Homo sapiens: one gene and its partners. The protein of the gene in region 2 purifies or fractionates together with the protein of the main gene of each other region. This does not show direct contact. Each region holds a gene or a part of one and is shown on either strand. Other genes may lie near its edges.

Region 1 (7,802 bases), on a different chromosome or scaffold from region 2:
AGGCCTGCCTGGCCCGGTTTTGCCTCTTATTGGGTAGGTATATCAGTCTAATTATGGGATTTAAAAAATAGAACCACTGTAATTGTACATTAAACTATGTCCTCCAATGTTACAGAAACAATTGGCGCCACCTTTATGCCTTTTATTTCTCAATTTGTTTGGAATGGGGCAGGAAAGGGGGTGCTACTTGGGCCCTCTTGAAAACCATTTCTCTCACCTCTTAATTTATGAATGAAGGGGCTGAGGCCAACAGAAGTAAAGTTTAATTTGCCCAGATTCAAGTGGTAGTTTATGAGTACCTGTTCTGTGCCAGTCTAGATATTGTAAAGGATACACGTATAAACACAACTCAAGTTTCTTAAGAAGCTTATAATTTAGTGACCAACCGGAGGTCCCACAGCAAGCTGGAACTGAGAAGTGATTTCTCTGTTGTTTATAATGCTGTTATATTTTTGTTTCCTCTATTTTCTATCTTCTTTTTTTATTGATATAATTGAGTTAAATAGGCTTTTCTATGCAAATTATGGAATTTAATTACATTTTCTTTCTATGAAAGAATATTTCTAAAAGCACAGATTTTAATTCTCTGAACTGCTGTCCTCCTCCGCACACAGGAGGGGCCCTTTGAAGATTATCAAATGGTATGCTGGTAAACTGGCTTTCTGGGGGGTGGGGAGATTAGAGAGAAATGGGAAGCCCTGTTTATAGAATTTGCCAATTTCTATGGTGTAAATACTCCTACCATAGCTGATTTCAAGCTACTGATGATTTAACAACCAGTTTGCAAAGTTCCTGAAAATTTAGCAATCAGTACTTCTGAGCCAGATACAAGATACAAGCTGGCTTCAGCAGACCTTACTACAGGTTCTTCTCCCACTCCTCGCAGTAAAAATAGGCTAAATATTTACTGAGCACCTGTTATATGTCAGTCTCTGGGCTTTCTTTGGGGGTTAGACATAGTCTGAGACCTCAGGGAATGTATAGTTTAGAGGGGGAGATAGTATATTTCAGCACTGTGTGGTATTAGGCCAGGGAAATGAGAAATATCAGTAGGAATCAGAAAACTCTTCTTAGAGGTGGTGACATCTACATGAAATCTGAGGAATGGCAAAGAATTAGACTGAGAGGGAGGGGTGGAGAAGAATGCTCCACAGGAAACAATTATGTACAGGCTTAAATAATGAATAAGCAGAATGTGAGTGTGGAGTTAGAAGTGGTCTAGCAAGAGCTGAAGGGCAGCCTGAATTTCCCTCCTGAGCGCCCACTCCACATATCTGGCCTTCTGCTTGACACCTCCATGAGGATGTGCCACAGAGTCACCAAATTCAACATATTCCAAAGTAAGCTCCTTCCACCTTTCTCCTCCTCAGCTTGGTCCACAATACTAACCGTCTCTTACTTCTATGGCTGGATAATATTTTGAGATACTAATTTATGATTTTTTTTCCAACTTGTATTTACCCCCTTGTTGCCTTCGGGAGAGATGTGGCAGGGTAGAGAGGAGTTGCCTGCAGATCATTTTTTCATTCTGGCTCTTACTGAAAACAACCTGAGCCCCCAGAGACAGAATAGAGTTTGCTGGCAATGGCAGAGTGTCTGGGAAAAAAAAAATGAAGAGGAAGGATTTTCCTTAAGAAGTGATTCCCTTGTATCTGGAAAGAAGAGGATAGAAGTCAGTATGTCCCAAGGCAGTGGGATTTGAGCCCTGAACTTGGACCACCATAATACCCTAAACATAAATGACCGAGGATGTGTGAGGCTTAGCAGGATGGTCCCAGATCTAGGAAATTCCTCTGGCCTCAGGTGTGGTGCCGGAGCCAAAGGGAGGGAACCAGTGTATAGGGCAGGGCCGTCTCGTCTATAGGCAGGTTGTGCACTGTATCATGGAACCATAGGTGGCAGCTCCAGGAAGGAACAAAGGAAACCTCTGTGGACAGATGACTGCAATCCGAAGGACCTCCCCTCCACTCCCTGCCATCATCACCCATTCATGGTCTGGTCTGGCATATGCTCTTGGAACTTTGACCCTGCTCGAGGGAATGAGGGAAGAACTTTACAAAAGAGTAAGGCCTTTAAAGAGAAATAAAATCAAGTGCAGATTCACGTTCTATGTTCTTCTCCTAGTCTCCTCAGTGTCTCAAAGGGCTGATCCCCGTAGGCTGTTTCCCTGGCTCCCATGGCAGGTGTATCAGACTTGGCCAATGCAAGGCACTGGAAGGAGATTGGAGGGCAGGAGAGGAGAACGTATAGTACATTTCCCCCTTCTCCCTCCCTAGATTGCTTCTTTGGCAGTGGTTGTTTCTCCTCTATGGCCGCAGCTCTCACCAGGCTGGCCATGCTGCCTGGGCCCTGGACTCCAATAACCCTGCCTCTTCTCTTATTTCTCCAGCTAGAGGTCGCAGTTGCTAGTTTCTGGATTACTGTGCCATCTCCTGATTAGCTTCTGACTTTTCCTATCACCTACGTTACCAATTTCTTGCATTCAATTACTTCTGTAGATACTCAAAATGGTTTCTGTTTTCCTGGTTAGACCCTGCTTGAAACAAATGAGTTTATAGAAAAGAAGGTAATGTGGTATTTCTTGCACACCTGTCTTTGTAGATTCTGTTTTACATCATTATGTTGTTATCAAATTCACCTATTCTGTTCTCTCAAGCTGGTTGTTTGCTAGCCGACATCATTTACATCAACGTAGTATAATATTTCCCAGGCAGCTGACATTTTAAAGTCATTTTAAAGGGATTTTCTGGAAAGGATGCCTTGAGGCAAAGACATAACTTACACAAGGAGTGTGTGAGATGGAGCTTCTGAGTCCCCAAATTCAGAAGGCCTTTCAGGGCTCTGGGTCTATTCTACATTTGGGCCTAACCCTTTATATGAATGCCATTTTTCTTTATAGGTTGAAGAGATCTTCCTAAAACACTAAAAAGCTCTGGGAAGGGATTCTGCATTAACTTGCACCTCTTATATGCCCCTCAGCCACGGCACTTGCAACCCACATCCAATCCGAGTGAAGACAATACCCAGTCAGTATCTCTAGGTGGCATAAACATATCCTTGATGGAGCCACACATAAAGCTATTATCAACCATTACTGCATGGTGAATTGGTTTATTAGGTGTTCTTTGTGACACTCAAGAACTGACTTAGGTTCTGATTGGGTGAAGATTCAGGGTTAGGATGGGAGCATAGAACACCACCCAGGGAGGGAGGCAATTTGGAGACAATGCCCTCAAGAGAGCTAGCCTTGAGCCTAATAAACTAAGAGGGGAACTTTATTGCTTTTGGCCAAAGCACACTGCCAAACTCTCAGCGCAAAGGGCAAGTACAAGACATTCTTCTGAAAAAGTTATAAGATTTCAGACAGGAAGAAATGAAATTAAGTCTCTTAATATAAAATATACAATGTTTTGGAGGTGGTTTTATGAGAATGATCATCAGGACAATACACTATTGTGTCAAACAGATTATAATCGGAAATAATTCTCGGTGTATTCTCCTAATGTACTGATGCAAAAAAAGTTTCTTCATTTATTTATTCATATTATGTTGTGCTAGCTTCTATATTTTTGAAATTACATGCAAATCTATGTCGGGAAAAAAAGTAACTGATGTTTTGTAAAATTGTTTAGGGAACATTCCTTAAAACTTATTCTTCCCTCTACCTTCCTTTACTTATTTTAGGGCACATAAGCAGTAGCATAAAATGGCTTATAGCTGAGCGGCCTCCGGGAGTGGTTCTGTTGGACTAGAGGTGTTTATATATTTTTTGCCTTTATATTATCAGGAACATATGTAGATTCTGGAACAAGTGTGAATCAAGACTCGTTTAAACTTATATTAATCTACTCCAGATTTATGTCTTTTATGTTAAGATAAAGCATTTTGTCTTTTAAAAAATAAAACTCTCTTGATTGGACACTGGTACCGAAATTTATAACACTTATAAACAATTTTGGGGTTCACCGACTGCGTACACATTCAGCCTTAGCCACTCAGTAGGCATATGACCTAAACTTTCTGCATTTTTAAAATGTGGATCATAATTGGTTACTTCCTCACAGAATGGTTATTGAGAGATGTAAATTTGGATATGCATGCCAGTAAATATTCTTATTGCTGAGCTTAACCAGTTCGGCAGAAATGTACATGAATTGAGAGAAGCAAATCTTCATCAAAGAAAATAATTTATTACAATAATAGACAAGATCAACATTTGTGCAAATTAAAAAATAGTTAATCCAATCAGAATCTGAATTTGAACTCCCCCCCCCGCCCCACCCCGCCACCTTCACTGGGTATTACGAGTTTTCGTAGACTGATCCTATAATTTTTAATTTCATGGCCTTCTAGTTTTCTGTACTTTTGCTTAGTGCTGAGCCCTTTAAGCAGAGACTCACAAGTGACAAATATCAGCACACCACTTAACTGAGGAAGCCGGAGTGTTCCCAGGTCCGCAAGTTGGAGCTCTTTAGTTGGAGTGCTGGGTTTAGACTAGAGAGCGGGTGTTGCGACTCCTCCTCCCCACCACCAGTCAACAACCCCGCCCACCCCCGCCAACTTCTTCTGGCCTCTTAGCGCCTTTCTGCAGCCAGCCGGCCCGCCCTTCCTCCGGGTGTCTGAGAGCTGGGCGCAGGAGGCGGGCTCAGCGCTGACGGGCTGCGCCTCTGCAGCCAGAGGGAGGAGGCGGGAAGGCGGGCGGAGGAGGAGGCGGAGGAGGAGGCGGAGGAGGGGGCGGGGACTAAGCAGGGCGGTAGCTGGCGCCGAGCGCGGTGGGAGAGGAGAGGGTACCCGGCTGGCTCGGCTGGCGGCCTCTGCCTGGATCTCGGCGCCGCAGTCCTGCGCCTCTCCCGCCCCTGTCTCCCGCTCCGCAGCCCCGGGCACGGCGGAGGCAGCGGAGCCCTGGGCCATCGGTAGGTTGCACGGGGACGACGGCTCCGTCTGTAACCTTTTGTGCTGCAGAAAAGGTGGTGGTTATGGGGGGCTTGGGGGAGTGGGTTTGCCCCAGGCTCCGATCCCCAGTGCCAGCCCTAATCGCGGCGCCGCCCCTTCCTCTCCGCCTCGTGTCTGGGCCGGGCGCACGATGCCCGCGGTGCTGGGGAAACCCGGCCGGACCAGCTTCTGCGATGGGCGGCGGGGCGGCCCCAGCGTCCCTTGGCCTTGGTGGACCGGTTCCCAGGCACCCGAAGGGGACTGGGGTCTGGTAAACTGGGTGGGGCCCGCGCGGGGTGCGGGGAGCTTGCGGTTCCCTGGCACAGGGGTGGGGCCGCAGACGCCGTGAGTGTGCAGCGCGTGTGAGTGTGCGGGGGCGTGCGCCCCCGTGTGCGCGCGTCGTGCGCTCGCTGGGGAGGTGCGGGGACTCGGCGACCCGGAGCGCCTCTCCCGCGGTGCCGCGGTGCGGAAGTCGGGGCGCGTTGGCGCGCACGCTCGCTCGCTCCCTCCCTTGGCCGCTGTTCCCGCACCGCGGGGCAGCGGGCCTGGAGGCCCCTTTGAGAAGTAGCTTTCCCCGGCCGGCGGCACCTTTGGCTGCGTGCCCGGCCGCGCTCAGGGTGCGACTGCCCGGGTCAGATAGCACCTCAGGGCGAGCCCCGGCGGTCTGATCTCGCCGACCCTCCTCGTCCTGGTTGCAACCCGCGTGCGAGGCCGCCCGCGCCCTCCGAGTGTCTGCCGGTGCAGTGGGGGTGGACTGGCCGGCTGTGGCCGTGTGTGCGCGTGTGGATTGGGGCCCGGTCCGAGCCAGAAGCTTAAGCGGCAGATGTCGGGCATTGCCACCCTCGCCCCACCTGTCGCGGGTGGACTTTGGGGCAGGTGGGAAGCGGAGGAGAGGGGTTTCGAGGCGGGTGGCAGTCAGACCTCCAGCAACGCGGCCCCATTGTGAAGCTGCCAAACTCTCTCTAGTGGTGGAATCTGCAGGTCTCCGCCAGAAAGGAGATGGGAACGCGAAGGGAATGATGGCCCCGTCCTTTTCCCCTTGCTAGTGTTCCACACGCTTAGGGACTCCCTGCCTCTCCTTCCACCTCAGTTTTCAACCCAGTGGGTTACTGATTTGGGTGGAACCAAGATTTCCGTGTGTGTGTGTGTGTGTGTGTGTGTTTGTGTGTGTGTGGTGCACAGGTAAAGCTGGAGCTGGGAACTTTTTATTTGAGCAGGAAGAATGGAGGCATTTTACAGTGTGCTTGCCGCTCCTAGCTGAAAGAACAATTCTTGCATATTTCTGATGTTACTAGACTCATTTTCCTTTTTTTTTTTTTTCCGAAGAGCCAACCTACAATTTAGGGTTGTTAGTTGTTTTATTTTCTCAAATCCTGTAATGCTGGATTGACACTATAGAGGTAGAAATGACCCTTTTGCAAAGTTTATTTTCCCAGTCATTTCAAAATATAGTATTGGTTATTACGGCAGAAGCTTTTGGCCGCGATTTATGATTACACTATTAAGTTTAATGAATGTGTCACAGAATCCTCAGTGTTTTAATTATGTAACTGTGAATGCATTATAAACTGAAAAGTAAAATGAACAGGATGGAATATAAGAGTTAATGAATACAGAGACCTGTTAATTTGATAATAATTGATGTATAGAATATGCTTTTGCTAACAGTTTATTTAATTGCAAATGAAAGTGTTAGTAATTATTTCAGTGTATAAGATATATTTATTGATATTATATAACAGTCAATGAATTTGCTTATTTTCTTTGTATATTTCTGTGTATTTTAGAGAGCTATTATAAAATTAACTCAAAAGTACTTAATATGGTTAGAGTAATAAAGCTTTATGTACAGGGTTTAAAATTTCTTTGCTGATTTGTAGCTGGGGGTGAGGTGGGGGATCAGCTCCTTTCCTCCAGAGAGAACTTTGATTTTGTCACCAGCCTATCAAAATGAGTACCTGGTTTTAAGCCTTCCCAAAGATTAGCCAATTCCACAGTGTACACCTGTTCCATTTTGATGATACTTCCTAAGAGACAAATTTCTTGTAAAGGCTGCATGTTGACCTTTAGTTCCACTTACTGTCGGTCATATTTGCAGTGAAACTGAGTATTTTTCTAAAAGTAGAAGGATGACACCACGTGATAAGAAGATATTAGTAACCTAGGTTTAATTTTTACTAGCAGAAATGGAAAGATAATGAGTGCTGCACTTTAAGGGGGTGGATTGCTATTAAAAGAACTGATACTAGAAAGAGAAACACATTTTTGTCTTACTGAACGAATTATGGGTTATCTTACAAAGTTGGCAAGGTTAATGGTTTGTTTGTAAGGTCAAGGATGGTTTCAGAAAAGTCACACCCTAGTTAACTCTTCTTAAAGAGTATTGATGACTTACTTTTTGCAAGTTGCAAATGGTAAAGTAAGAATATTTGAAAGAAGCCTCTAAGATGAGCATCTAGGTGCAGCTAAACATTTTGTTTTCATTGTTGTGTTGTACTTTGACAGTTAAGCCATTTTATTTCTGCTTAGTGTTCAGTTAGTATTCCTCCAGAGATGTTTTGGTTCATCTTTTACTTGTTTTTAGTGGTCTTTGAGATTAGTGGTTACAAAATATTTTCACTATTTTGAAAGAATTTTTAAAAATTGATGTTTTTTTTCCAAGTGCTTTTCCATTAGTGGTCTCTTCTTAAATAGCCACTCTGAAAATACTACCTGTTTTTCTTTTTCTTTCTTTCTTTCTTTCTTTCTTTCTTTCTTTCTTTCTTTCTTTCTTTCTTTCTTTCTTTCTTCCTTTCTTTCTTTCTTTCTTTCTTTTCTTTCTTGAAAATGTTTTGGTGGGCTTCAGGTTAGGGCCATGAAAAAAATGAAAA
Region 2 (7,158 bases):
GAGACAGAGTTTCACTCTTGTTGCCCAGTATGGAGTGTGATGGCACCATCTCAGCTTACTGCAACCTCCACCTCTCAGGTTCAAGCAATTCTCCTGCCTCTGCCTCCTGAGTAGCTGAGATTACAGGTGGCCACCACCACGCCCAACTAATTTTTGTATTTTTAGTAGAGACGAGATTTCACCATGTTGGCTGGGCTAATCTTGAACTCCTGACCTCTGGTGCTCTACCCACCTCGGCCTCCCAAAGTGCTAGGATTACAGGTGTGAGCCACCATGCCCAGCCCTGAAACACAGTCTTAATTTTCTTTTCTATGTTCATATTGTTGCAGTAAACTGAGGAACGGAGAGACTAATACGGAGTACAGGAGGATTTGTTTATTTTAGGCACGCACCGGCTCGGAGGATTCACATCTAAAAGCTGAGCCTTGAACAAAGACTGAGCGGGTTTTTATAAGTGGCTTTACAGAAGCAAAATAAAAGCAATTAATCATACAGTAACAGGTTACATAATCTATAGCGTAACATAACTTGTGACTTAGCCAGTGGCCTTGTAGCTGCATTAAAAGAAAAACAAGAACTGGCTAAATACAGACATTTGTAAAACATAATCATGCTAATCATGCTTAAGAAGCCCGGGAAAAGAGTAACATTAAAAGAACTTGTATTTCTCTTTTTTTTTTCTTTCAACCTTGCTCTGGAACCAGGGGTCGGGGGGAGGGTGGTGTCTGGAGCTTATTCCTTTGGCCTTGGCTATTTGGACAGCGTTATCTTCTAACTGTCTTCAAAGTGAGCTACTAGGCAGAGGAAAACTTGTTCTTTTCTTTTTAACTCTTGCCTTGCCACATTCTGGGCCTTAGTTTTTACTTTTCTTGGAGTGAATAAATGCAGTACTTATTATTATTTAAATTTCTGCCTCAATGTAGTCACTTGCTCAGTAGACTGTCTAGGTTTCTTCATTTGTCCTTGCTAACAGAGCTAATCTTGCCATTTCTATTTTCCTCTTAATGTGCCCTAGTATCTCCTGTTCTCAAATTTACATTCTCGTGACAGTTGATAAGGCAGAGAACCAAATCTGCCACCAAAAATCTCATTCTCCTACTTTTCTTCCTTTAACCCCTTTTCCCCCTCACTTTGGTACTTATCTTTGGAAGGCAGCAATTCTTATTTATCATCGAAATCTTTTATTTCCTTTTTAAATTTGTAGCAGAATCATTCAGAGATAAAAATAAGTAATCCCACTGAATTCCAGAATCATGAAAAGCAGGAAAGCCAGGATCTCAGAGCTACTGCAAAAGTTCCTTCTCCACCAGACGAGCACCAAGAAGCTGAGAATGCTGTTTCCTCAGGTAAACGTGGAATAAATGGTATGTCAAGTAACTTTAAAAACCAAAATTGCTAGAAGTAGCCAGGTACATTAATTTCCTAGGACTGTTGTGACAAAGCACCACAACTGGGCAGCTTAGAACAACAGAAATTTACTCTTTCATAGTTCTAGAGGCTGGAAGTCCAAAATCAATGTGTCAGCAGGACCATGCTTCTCTGAGACTCTGGGTGGACTCCTTCCTTGCCTCTGACTACTTTGCGATGGCTGTCGACGCTTGGTGTTCCTTGGCTTGCAGCTGCATCATTACCAGTCTCTGGCTCTGACAGCGCATGACATTCTCTCTCTATGTCTTCTTAATAGGACAGCAGTCATATTGGATTAGGATCCACCCAAATAGGCCAAGCATAGTGGCTGGTGCCTATAATCCCATTACTTTGGGAAGCCAAGTCAGGAGGATTGCTTGAGCCTAGGAGTTCAGGACCAGCCTGGGCAACATGGTGAGACCCTGTCTCTACAAAAAGTCAAAAGAATCAGCCAGCCATGATGGTGCACACCTGTGGTCCCAGCTACTCAGGAGGCTGAGGTGAAAGGGTTGCTTGAACCCAGGAGGTTAAGGCTGCAGTGGGCCATCTTCATACCACTTCACCCCAGCATGGACAGAGTGAGACCCTATCTCAAAAAATTAAAAGAACATCCAAATGATGTCATTTTAACCTTAATACATCTGAAAAAAAATTCCCATATCTAAATAAGGTCATATGACAGGTACCAGTGGTTAGGACTTCAACATATCTTTTAGGGGGCCACAATTCAACCCATAGCACCATGTTATAGAATTTCTTTTTTTTTTTTTTAGACAGAGTCTTGCTGTGTTGCCCAGGCTGGAGTTGCAATGGTACGATCTTGGCTCACTACAACCTCCACCTCCTGGGTTCAAGCGATTCTCCAGCCTCAGCCTCCCAAGTAGCTGGGATTACAGGCTCGTGCCACCAGGCCCAGCTAATTTTTGTATTTTTAATAGAGACGGGGTTTCACCATGTTGGCCAGGCTTGTCTCGAACTCCTGACCTCGTGATCCACCCACCTCAGCCTCCCAAAGTGCTGAGATTACAGGCGTGAGCCACCGCACCCGGCCTTCCTTTCGCTTTCTTTTGCCTACTAAACCTCTGCTCTTAAAAAATAAAAAATAATAATAAATAAATGAAAATAAAATATCTCAGTATTAGTTTCACCTGGGCAAATCTGCTAGGGCCCTGAGCCTTGCCAGAGGAGGAGTTAGAGAGACTGAGAGAGGATAATTCATTCCAGTATCCACCAAGCAGTTAAATCTGGAATTTCTAATCCTGAGCCTTCTCATTTTCCCTAAAACTTTGAGTGTCATACTGAATCTAGAAAATTACAGGATTCCTTGGGTCTGAGATGGGCTTGGGAATCTTCAGTTTTTAACAAGTCTCCCAGGTAATTTTTAATTTTTATTTATTTATTTATTTATTTATTTTTGAGACAGGGTCTTGCTCTGTTGCCCAGGCTAGAGCACAGTGGCACGATCTCAGCTCACTGCAGCCTCAGCCTCCTGAGTACCTGGGACTATAGGCATGCACCACCACGCCCGGCTAATTTTTGTATTTTTAGTAGAGACAGGGTTTCACCATGTTGCCCAGGCTGGTCTCAAACTGCTGAGCTCAAGTAATCTGCCCACTTCAGCCTCCTAAAGTGCTGGGATTACAGGTGTGAGTCACCATGCCCAGCCAGCATTTTTTAATACAGGCCAGTTTTTTGTCCTCTGAGTTGGTTTGTCTAATATGTCCTCATGCTTAGAATCAGACTATGGGCTGTTGGCAGGAATCCCAAAGAGCAATGCTGTTGCTTCCTCAGTAAGCACCCTAGGAGGCACAAGTGCTGGTTTTTCCTATGGCTAGTCACGTTAACTTCCATCAGTTAGTTATGGTGGTGTCTGCTAGGTTGTTTCTTTGTGAAGTTACTCTTTTACCACTTGGAATTAGTAAGTATCCTGTGGAGAGTTACTCTACATAAATATCCTTTCTTTGTTTTGTTTTGTTTTGAGACAGAGTCTCTCTCTGTTGCCCAGGCGGGAGTACAGTGACAGGATCTCGGCTCATTGCAACCTTTGCCTCCCAGTCTCAAGCAATTCCACTGCCTCAACCTCCCAAGTAGCTGGGATTACATGTGTGCACCACCATGTTTTTGTTTTTTCAGTAGAGACAGGGTTTCACCATGTTGGCCAGACTGGTCTCGAACTCCTAATCTCAGGTGATCGGCCCACTTCGGCCTCCCAAAGTGCCAGGATTACAGGCGTGAGCCACCAAACCCTGCCAAATATCCTGTTTCTCATGAAACTTTCACCTTCTGGTTTTATAGCCAAAGTCTAAGCAGAAGCCCCTGCGACCATTCCAACACTGACAGAACATTCCTCTGCCTTGTTTTACGGATACATTGGGGAAACTTAAGGATGAGAACTTTAGAAATGGTATTTCTTGGAAACCCACTTGCTTGTAAATCAGTGGTTGAAAGAAAAGAAAAAAATAATTAAAAAGAGATGAAAGCTCATTGCATATTTTTAAAATAGATTGCCTGAAGTTGAAAAAGATGTAAGATTGAGGCTTTCTTATATTTGTAAGATTAGACTCATAGCTCTATAGCATATTATACGGGGCCCTTTATGGTTTAACCCGCTACCTGTCCTATTCTCAACGTCCTCCACTCCCTCTTATGCACCCTACACTTCAGCAATTTCAGCCTACCTCAGTTTCTCTGAATGTCATTATTTCCACTGTACTACAGCTTTATATATCACTATTGTTCCCTCTGCCTGGAATGGTTCTTTTCCATCCTTGCCTAATAAATTCCATTAAGGTCAAAAAAATAAAGAAACGACAGAATTTGGAAAATGATTATGGTAAGTGGGAAAAAATACCTAACCTAATATATACCATAATTTCAACTGAAGTTAAAAAATAATAATAATAAGCTGGCTACAGTGGCACATGCCTGTAGTCCCAGTTACTCAGGAGGCTGAAGCAGAAGTATCACTTGTGCCCAGGATTTTGAGGCCAGCTGGGCAACGTAGTGAGACCTTGTCTCTTCACAGAAGCAAACAGGCCAGGCGCAGTGGCTTACGCTTGTAATCCTAACACTTTGGGAGGCCAAGGTGGATGGATCACCTGAGGTCAGGATCGAGACCAGCCTGGGTAACATGACAAAACCCTGTCTCTACTAAAAATACAAAAATTAGCCGGGTGTGGTAGCTCACACTTGTAATCCCAGCTACTTAGGAGGCTGAGACAGGAGAATCTCTTGAACCCTGGAGGCAGAGGTTGCAGTGAGCCAAGATCGCGCCACTGCACTCCATCCTGGGCGACAGTGTGAGTCCGTCTCAAAACAAACAAATGACAACAACCAAAATAAGTATAGGAAGCAGAGGACCAGAGGAAATATGCCAGACGTTAATGGTGTTTTCTTTGGCTGATTGGATTACGTGACTTTTATCACTAGTTGTAACAATATTATGTTCATAATAAAAACTGAAAAAGTTTGTTTTAACCGATATATATATATATATATATGTTTAATTTATATTAAATAATTTTTTAGTAATAGAGACGGGGTCAGGGCAGGGCGCGGTGGCTCACTCCTGTAATCCCAGCACTTTGGGAGGTTGAGGCAGGCAGATCACAAGGTCAGGAAATGGAAACCATCCTGGCTAACACGGTGAAACCCTGTCTCTACTAAAAATACAAAAAAAATTAGCCGGGTGTGGGGGCGGGCGCCTATAGTCCCAGCTACTCGGGAGGCTGAGGCAGGAGAATGGCTTTAACCCGGGAGGTGGAGCTTGCAGTGAGCCGAGATCACGCCACTGCACTCCAGCCTGGGCGAAAGAGCGAGACTCCATCTCAAAAAAAAAAAATAGAGACAGAGTCTTGCTGTGTTGCCCAGGCTCGTCTCAAACTCCTGGACTCAAGCCATCCACCCACCTCAGCCTCCCAAAGTGCTGGGATTACAGGCATGAGCCACTGCACCTGGCCAACTTTCTGTATTTTTATTTTATGTATTTATTTATTTTTTTTGAGACAGAGTCTCGCTTTGTTGCCAGGCTGGAGTAGAGTGGCGTGATCTCAGCTCACTGCAACCTCCACCTCCTGGGTTCAAGCGATTCTCCTGCCTCAGCCTCCTGAGTAGCTGGGATTACAGGCACGCCCCACCACGCCCAGCTCATTTTTGTATTTTTAGTAGGGACAGGGTTTCACCATGTTGGCCAGGATGGTCTCCATCTCTTGAACTCATGATCCACCCGCCTCGGCCTCCCAAAGTGCTGGGATTACAGGTGGGAGCCACCGCGGCGCCTGACCAACTTTCTAATATGTTTATATAACTTCTCCACAGGTGTCAGAAAATTTCTGAATGCCTACTTGAAGCATATGACCTGTAATCGTAGGAATGCTGTAACTAATTTTTTGTGCTCCCTATGTGCTGTTTCTACCACCATCTTGACAGAGCCTACCATGTGAAAATACTCTGTTAACTTACACACGTTTTTTTTTTTGTTTTTGTTTTTGTTTTTGTTTTTTTAGAGGTGGAGTCTCACTCTGTTGCCCAGGCTGGAGTGCAGTTGCGCGATCTCGGCTCACTGCAAGTTCCGCCTCCCGGGTTCACACCATTCTCCTGCCTCAACCTCCCGAGTAGCTGGGACTACAGGCGCCCACCACCACGCCCGGCTGACTTTTTGTATTTTTAGTAGAGATGGGGTTTGATAGTTTATAAGCCAGGATGGTCTTGATCTTCTGACCTCGTGATCCACCCGCCTCGGCCTCCCAAAGTGCTGGGATTACAGGCGTGAGCTACCGTGCCCGGCCACATATTTCTTAATGAGAACTTTTTTGAAATCCTTCATTATTTCTGTGTCTTTGGATTTAGGTAACAGAGATTCAAAGGTACCTTCAGAAGGAAAGAAATCTCTCTACACAGATGAGTCATCCAAACCTGGAAAAAATAAAAGAACTGCAATCACTACTCCAAGTAAGTTTTGTAGACAAAGCCATAATAAGTAATGGTTGCCCCACTTCGGAATGATGTTGGACTGTAACAGCTGAAAGCATAGAGGCTGGAACCAGTTTACATTCTAGTTCTCTCGTCTTTTAGGTTTGATATCTTGGGGAACTTACTCATCCTCAATAAACTCACTTCCTCAGTGCAAAGTGGAAATAGTTATACTATAGTGCCTATTTCTTTCTTTTTTTTTTTTTTTTTTGAGACAGAGTCTTGCTCTGTCACCCAGGCTAGAGTGCAGTAGCGTGAGCTTGGCTCACTGCTACCTCCACTTCCCAGGTTCAAGTGATTCTCCTGACTCAGCCTCCCTAGTAGCTGGGACTACAGGTGTGCTCCACCACGCCCAGCTGATTTTTGTATTTTCAGAACAGATGGGGTTTCACCATGTTGGCCAGCATGGTCTCAACTTCTTGACCTCATGATCCGCCTGCCTCGGCCTCCCAAAGTGCTGGGATTCCAGGCGTCAGCCACTCTGCCTGGCCTATAGTACCTATTTCATCAGGTTGATAGATACATAAATTGAGAATACTTTTTCCACTACTGCTTCCCTATCACGGCAAATAGCATGCAGCAAGGATTCAATAAACAACTGATGAATCAATGTATGAACTACTTGGTACAATATCCACCTTCTAATGAGTTTTTCATAAGTCTAAATGATTCCGTTTTTGGGCATGTAAGTCTTCTCTATCTTATATTGTTGGAACATTGCTTGGCACATAGAATGTTGATTATTATATTTATAGTAGTTGCAATGCTGCTTATCGTATA
Region 3 (7,269 bases), on a different chromosome or scaffold from region 2:
ACCTACTAATGGCTTGAAAGAATATATTTTTTAGGGATCTTTTCTAAAGATTTGGGGGTCAGGATCTCAACATATGAATTTTTGGGAAACATAAACATTCAGTCCATAACACAAGGCAACAGAAAAATAAAATAGTACCTGTGTATTTTTGGGGCATTGACCTTCACTTCCAAAAAGCTTTCCTTGATGTTAATGGAGCACCTGACTCTCAAGGCATGGTATAAAAATAGACTGTGAATAAGAATACTACGAGTTCTACCAAATAGCCTGTGATATGTGCATTTGAACAATGTATATTACAATATAGCATTGAAGTTGTTTTGTTTGTGTACCAAGTCATTATCTATACGTTTGTATGTATACATAGTGTGAAAATGTATTTGCCAAAATATTATCTTAAATCAATGTTGCCATGTTTTCTCTTTTTATTATTTATGATGTCAATGTGCTGAGATATTTTAATAAATATCATATATCAGTCAAAAATTGTATTATTAAAAATGAATACACCTAGTGTAGTCCAAAGAAATGTTTTATGAACATATATACACCAAGGATCTAAAGAGCAAAGTTAACCTTTTATCTTTGATTTATCACGTGTCAGTCACTCCACCCCTGTTTGCCTCACTCAAACACATTATTATTATTATTATTATTATTATTATTATTATTATTGTGCATTTCAAAGTAAGTTGCAGACATCTTTGCAGTTCACCCTGGGACACAGTGGCATGCAGATTATAACATAGTCAAAGCAGTAAGAACCACCATTGCAAGAAAGAGGATGAATTAAAGTTCACCCAGGCTTATTTCAGATCCCAGAGCAGGAAATGAGGAGGGCAGATGAGGAGAAATGAGGATTCTGAAATAGTCTACTCGTGGGAGAAGAGTGCTGTCATGAAGGTGGAGTCGCTGCCCAAGAGAGACTGGAGAGAGAGTGTGTAGAGCCATTGAACATCAGGGATGCACACTGTAGGGCCTGGGGCAGACAGAACAGGCTGCAGCAGGGGATAAGCCCCTGGCCCATGTGGAAGTTGCAAGCTGGGTGGGTGCTGTGGATGCCATAGTGATGTGGAATGAGAAGAGAAAATGGGAGCCTGGGCTCCAAACAAGGAGTGAGCAGAGCCACACTTCTTACTCTCTCACTGAATCAGGTAACATGGAGAAAGGTCTGGATCTCTGCACCTGCCCAGTAAGGAAGCAGAGGTGGGAGAGGGAGAGTCAGCCTGGACAAACTCAGGGAGAAGCAGAGGCCCCAGCCTCATTGCACATGTGTTCCTGATCTGATTCCTCTGATTCTCCAGGTGTTGAAGAGCCATGAACAAGACTACTTCATTGGCAACAAGCTGAGCCAGGCTGACATTCACCTGGTCAAACTTCTCTACCACGTGGAAGAGCCTGACTCCAGCCTCATCTCCAACTTCCCTGTGCTAAAGGTGACCCATTTCCCAGTCCTCAAGAGGCAGCTCCTCATCTCCCATCTTGGGATCTAGTATCTGGGCCCTTGGACTGGCCACATTCTGACCTCAGCCTTCTCCAGGTCTTCAGGGCCCCCCAGGTCTCCAAAATGAGCTTCCAAGTCCTGATTCTGAGGCATGGAAATGCCTTCTTGTTATGCCAAGGAAATCTGATGTGCATGCTACCCCAAGAATATTTCGCTTTTTATAATGCCAAGGACCCAGGGCCCAGCATCTCTCCTCATCCCTTTATTTCACTGTGGTTTCTGTTCCTGAGTTCTCTGTGATGCCCTTTATCCCAATATGCCCTTATCTTCCCACACCAAGTGTGTCTGAGCAGGGCCCTTTCCATCTGGTTCCTTCCTTATGCTCTGGCTCCTGCTGTCAGATAACTGAGTTCCTTGTGCACAGCTCTCCCAACACGCTGTCCCCGAAAGCTATATCTCTCTATGGGAAAAAGTGGCCCCATGGTTTGACTTTAACATTTTCTATTTTCATTTCTAACTCAATTTTCCCATATCTTCACTTCTTCTGCTTAGAGACTGATCTGTGCTGATATCTCACAGGCACATTGTTCTTTCTCATCTTCTACAAGAGCCATGAATCTACAAGATTCATGTGTAAGGAAGAGGGTAGGAAGACTGAACTGAATAAAGTCTTAAAGACATTTTTTGGGAAAATGCTAGTGAGCTGCATGTTCTTCCTCTTATCTTCATTTCTCACGTAGTGTCTCTTTCTGCCTCCCTACTGGTGCTGATAGAGGGAACTTAGTTGGTCTTTGTGTAGGAGGGGCGCAGATTCCCTGGGTTGTGTTAATGGTGGTGTCAGTCCTTGGCTTCACTCTGAGGCTGTGCTTTGTGCATTGCGGGCCCTGAAAATCAGAATCAGCAAACTCCCCACAGTGAAGAAGTTTTTGCAGCCTGGCAGCCTGAGGAAGCTTCCCATAGATGCAAAAGGTTTACAAGAAGCAACAAAGATTTTCAAGGTTTGATAAAGCAGGCATGGATGCCAAGAACATGCAATACCAATATTCTAAAGTTTTGCAACAATAAATTGCTTTATCTAAATGTTGGTTGTGGCTATTGTGAAGTTAATAAACTTTTTAAAAATTGTATGCTAATTACATAGTAAAATGCCTATGACCAGATTTAGTTAAAATTGATTTCTTTTCATTAGTATCTGATATGAAATCAGATTTCCGAACTGCCCATAAATTTTCTTGGAATTAAAAATTTAGTAAAAAGTACAATGTAGACTATGTGGTTTGTTTGACTTTTTCAAGAATTGTCCTGCAACATTTGTGAAATTGCCTATCAAAAACTCATGTATAGAAATTTACTTCTGACATTCTGCACAAGAAAACAGTTATCATTCTGGGGAATGGCAAAATGAAATTTTCTTTTTTCCTTGACATCCATTTTATTTCTCATGAAAACACTTTTTCTTATGCATTTTCAAACAACCTTTCTGTCTGCTATGGATCCCTCAGTTTTCTAGGAGGTGAGGAAATATTGAAGAGCAAACAGACCCACCCTCTGCTCTCAGGCCAACTTGTCATCCCTTACAGTGCATGTGCTCCTGGCTCATCCTCACTCTCCTCCTTAAGGCTCTGTGGGGACCCGGGCATAAGCCTTCCCTCAGTTCGTTCAGTGCCACTCAGGCCTGGCTGCGAAGATACAGATGGTATATGTGAATTACGTATAAGTAACTATATTTAAAATTATTTTTCCCTGGTGTGTCATTGTGCCAGCGTGTTTGGATTAGAAGTGATTTCCAGGAATCCTTCCCTGCGTCTTCTAGTTTCGGGGGGCTCTTGGCCTTTCTGGACTTTCATGGATCATGACCACATCACTCTAATTTCTGCCTCTGTCTTCCTGCACCTCACCCCCTGTGTGTTGTGTCTTCTCTTCTCTCTGCTGTGAGGACAATTGTCATTGGATTTGGGGCCTATCCAGATATACCAAGATGATCTCATCTCAAATTCTTTTACTTCATTACATCTGCAAAGAGCCTTTTTCCAAATAAGATCAAGTTCACAGGATCTAGGGATTTATATATGGACCTGTCTTTCTTGGGGTCCAACATAACCCCCTACATGGTGTAGATGAAGAAAGAATATTTGCAATTGATGAATCCAGGTGATGGATACTTTCATATTTGTTATATTATGGGCAATTTGAGTGACGCAAAGAGGATAGCATATGCAAATAGGGTTCCCGGATTTGTCAGATAAAATGCAGGATACCCACCTAAATGTGAATTTCAGGTAAACGATAAATAATATTTCAGTATAATCTGGTTTCATACCGTGTTTGGAACATAGCTATAACTAAAAAATTGTTGATTGTTTGCCTGAAATTCACATTTACATGGATGTCCTATATTTTATTTGGCAACCCAGTAAGAAAACGGTGGCATCAGCTTGCCCTTCACAGACATCCTCTCCCAGCTATGCTCACAATAGGGTTTTTTCAGTTGCCCTAGTCTTTGCATCCAACTCATGAAAAAAAGTATCTTTAAAAAGCCAGTTTCTGCTGACTTGCAAAAAGAGCAAAATCTAGGTGAAATGTATTGTTTAAACTTTGATTACCAACCTTGAAAAGGAACATATTAACCAGTGTCTTCTGATAAGCAGATCACTTGCCTCATGTCTTAGAATCCAGTAGGTGGCCCCTTGGCCATGAAATGTGTGGGAGTGGCTTTTCCCTAACTTGACCCTTCTTTCAGTGGGAGGGAACTATTGAGAGGAACAAAGAGCTTATAAATACATTAGGACCTGGAATTCGGTTGTCCAGCCACAAAGGTGACAGCATTTAACAAAGTAAGTACTGATCTTATAAATCTCTCTACATTGCCTCACACCCTCCTCTCTAGCCTCCTAGAAAAATACACTAATATGTGTCCTTAGCACAAGAAAAAGTTTGTTTTTACTCATATCATGCCATCTTGGTGTGTTTGGGTGACAGTTCAAGAACTGTTTATTTCTTTTCTGTTGGATACATCTTTACAGAAATGTAAAAATGAAGAGTTTAGAAAACCAGGGCCTCAGCATTTAAAGGTATGGGAAACAATGACATGAGGAGAAAAAAGAAATGGTAGCATTTTAAACAATCTGAGAATAATCAGTGCTGGAAGAAGTGGCAATGTATGCAAAAATTTCTTTATATATATAGTCAACACACAATTGTAAATTGTGACACTGTAATTCTATATTGGCTGTGAAAATTCAAAACTAAGGTTTATTATAATTAGAAAAAATTAGTTTGAATGTTAGGAGGACTAGATTCTAGTTGAGCCTCTGCCACTAATTAGCTCGACGACAAGTCATATTCTGTCTCTGGAGTACTACCAACTCATGGCCAATATAGAGAATAGCTAAGAAAGAGGCTCTGACTGTTGCTGCGAACTGTGTAATTCTTTGAACGGAGATCTGTCCTGCCCACTCTAGGATATTTCTAAGCATCCCTGAAGGGGTGGCCTGCCCCTCCACACCTGTGGGTGTTTCTTGTTGGGTGGGATGAGAGACTGAGAAAAGAAAGAGACACAGAGACAAAGTATAGAGAAAGAAAAGTGGGTCCAGGGGACCGGGGCTCAGCATATGGAGGACCTGCGCTGGCGCCAGTCTCTGAGTTCCCTCAGTATTTATTGATCATTATCTCTACCATCTCAGAGAGGGGGATGTGGCAGGACAATAGGATAATAGTGGGGAGAGGGTCAGCAGGAAAACGTGAACAAACTCACGTCTCTGTGTCATAAACAAGGTTAGAAAATGTGCTGTGTTTTGATGTGCACATACATAAACATATCTGGTGCATTAAAGAGCAGTATTGCCGCCAGCATGTCTCACCTCCAGCCTTAAGGCAGTTTTCTCCTATGTCAGTAGATGGAACATACAATTGGGTTTTACACCAAGACATTCCATTGCCCAGGGATAAGCGGGAGACAGATGCCTTCCTCTTATCTCAACTGCAAAGAGGCCTTCCTCTTTTACTAATCCTCCTCAGCACAGACCGTTTATGGGTGTCGGGCTGGGGGACTATCAGGTCTTTCCCTTCCCACGAGGCCATATTTCAGACTATCACATGGGGAGAAACCTTGGACAATACCTGGCTTTCCTAGGCAGAGGTCCCTGCGGCCTTCCGCAGTGTTTTGTGTCCCTGGGTACTTGACATTACTGAATAGTGATGACTTTTAACAAGCATACTGCCTTCAGGCATTTGTTTACAAAGCACATCCTCCATAGCCCTAAATCCATTAAACCTTGAGTCCACACAGTACATGTTTCTGTGAGCACAGGGCTGGGGGTAGGGTTACAGATTAACAGCATCTCAAGGCAGAAGAATTTCTCTTAGTACAGAACAAAATGGAGTCTCTTATGTCTACTTCTTTCTACATAGACATAGTAACAGTCTGATCTCTCTTTCTTTTCCCCACACATCCCTGCCCTCTACCTATCTGATTTGTAGCCCCCCTCCCTCTCTGCAGATATAGCAACCCAAAATGTCTCTAGACCTTGCTCAATGTCCTCTGGAGCAGAGGAACAAAATCCCCCTGGTTGAGAACCATGGGACTACATGACCTCATGGGGCTAAGCAAGGCTGTGTTACCGATGTGCCCCACTGCTTGGACATTCACTGAAAACTTCCTGTTAATCCAGGTGGGCTGATTAGTGAATATCATTGACCTCTGTACAGGAGCTAAAAAGCAAAGAGAGAGAGAAACAGAGAGCCATCATATGACAGATTTGATATAAGTCTGGATTCATATAAAATCTTATTCCTACTAGAGTTCTACGGACAAAATATAGAGAACCAGAGAAATGGATACAAGATAGATAATAGATGATGAAGAGACAGATTACAGAGAGATAGATACATAGAACGATTGATAGATAAAATAATACATACATGGATGGGTAGACAGAGATTATAAACAGATACATGTACATAGATTGTTGGTTGGTAAAATAATTGGTGGATAGATAGATCAAAGAAAGAAGATCCATGGGCTACTCAATGTGTCCAGAGCCTCACCCATCTTCCAAGCACTGGGACAAGAGCAAACACCCTGTGTTCCTACTATGATTTTTTTCTACATTATCTCATTTAACTTTCTCAACAACCCTCAAAAGTAGAAATAACTATCTCTAATCTAAGAAGAGAAAATTGAGGCTCAGAGATTAAACAACCTACTGCATTTATGAATCTCATAATGGAAGGAGTCATGGTTTATCTCATTCTCCCTTCTCTCTGATAAGAAACAGTGTCACTGGGACAACCTCAGAGACGTAACTCCTTTAATTTACTCCTGGAAATATGAGACCTTATAGTCCTTTCAAAACAAGCCCATTTTTTAATTGATGTAAATTAATTATTGATGTAAAGTAATTACACTAGTCCTCAACTCACTCTGGTTTTTAGGTTGTCAAAGTAGAGAAAGGCACACTTTTATTAGTTTTTTCTTCCAAGCAAGCCCCTGAAAAGTTGCTAACAGGAGGAACTCAGGAATTAGATGTTCCCCTCTCGCCCTCTCCTTCCAACATTTATTTGGCTAATATACATTGAATAGGAAAATACAAAACAACTTCTCAGACAGGAGCTGAGAGCCAGGTTATGAGGTGGAGTGGAAAAGCTCCGGACCTGCAATCAGAAGTTCAGGCTGACCCAACACTCACCACGTGTGCAGCATGAGACAGGTGCTTTAGCTCTCTGAAATTCAGTGTACCCATCTTTAATTAGGATAATAGGAGCCATTTCCCAGGGTTGTTGCAGAAGGTAAACACACTCCCTAGATATTGACTATGAATGAGGAG

What was found.
Region 1: the proteins of NUSAP1 (region 2) and MACIR purify together in Homo sapiens (affinity purification with mass spectrometry; 3 studies listed by BioGRID and IntAct, with this or other methods). This does not show direct contact.
Region 3: the proteins of NUSAP1 (region 2) and GSTA2 purify together in Homo sapiens (affinity purification with mass spectrometry; 2 studies listed by BioGRID and IntAct, with this or other methods). This does not show direct contact.

The regions. Positions count from the first base shown.
Region 1 is NC_000005.10:103,253,984-103,261,785, forward strand, and holds the start of MACIR (macrophage immunometabolism regulator), read left to right. Parts: upstream 1-4,779; 5' UTR 4,780-4,913; intron 4,914-5,046; exon of another isoform or gene 5,047-5,212; intron 5,213-5,241; exon of another isoform or gene 5,242-5,294; intron 5,295-5,440; exon of another isoform or gene 5,441-5,808; intron 5,809-5,922; exon of another isoform or gene 5,923-6,033; intron 6,034-7,802. UniProt on the Homo sapiens protein: Regulates the macrophage function, by enhancing the resolution of inflammation and wound repair functions mediated by M2 macrophages. The regulation of macrophage function is, due at least in part, to its ability to inhibit glycolysis.
Region 2 is NC_000015.10:41,349,784-41,356,941, forward strand, and holds part of NUSAP1 (nucleolar and spindle-associated protein 1), read left to right. Parts: intron 1-1,204; coding exon 1,205-1,346; coding exon of another isoform or gene 1,347-1,364; intron 1,365-6,255; coding exon 6,256-6,357; intron 6,358-7,158. UniProt on the Homo sapiens protein: Microtubule-associated protein with the capacity to bundle and stabilize microtubules. May associate with chromosomes and promote the organization of mitotic spindle microtubules around them.
Region 3 is NC_000006.12:52,760,453-52,767,721, reverse strand, and holds the start of GSTA2 (glutathione S-transferase A2), read left to right. Parts: upstream 1-4,246; 5' UTR 4,247-4,278; intron 4,279-7,269. UniProt on the Homo sapiens protein: Catalyzes the conjugation of glutathione to a large variety of electrophilic compounds.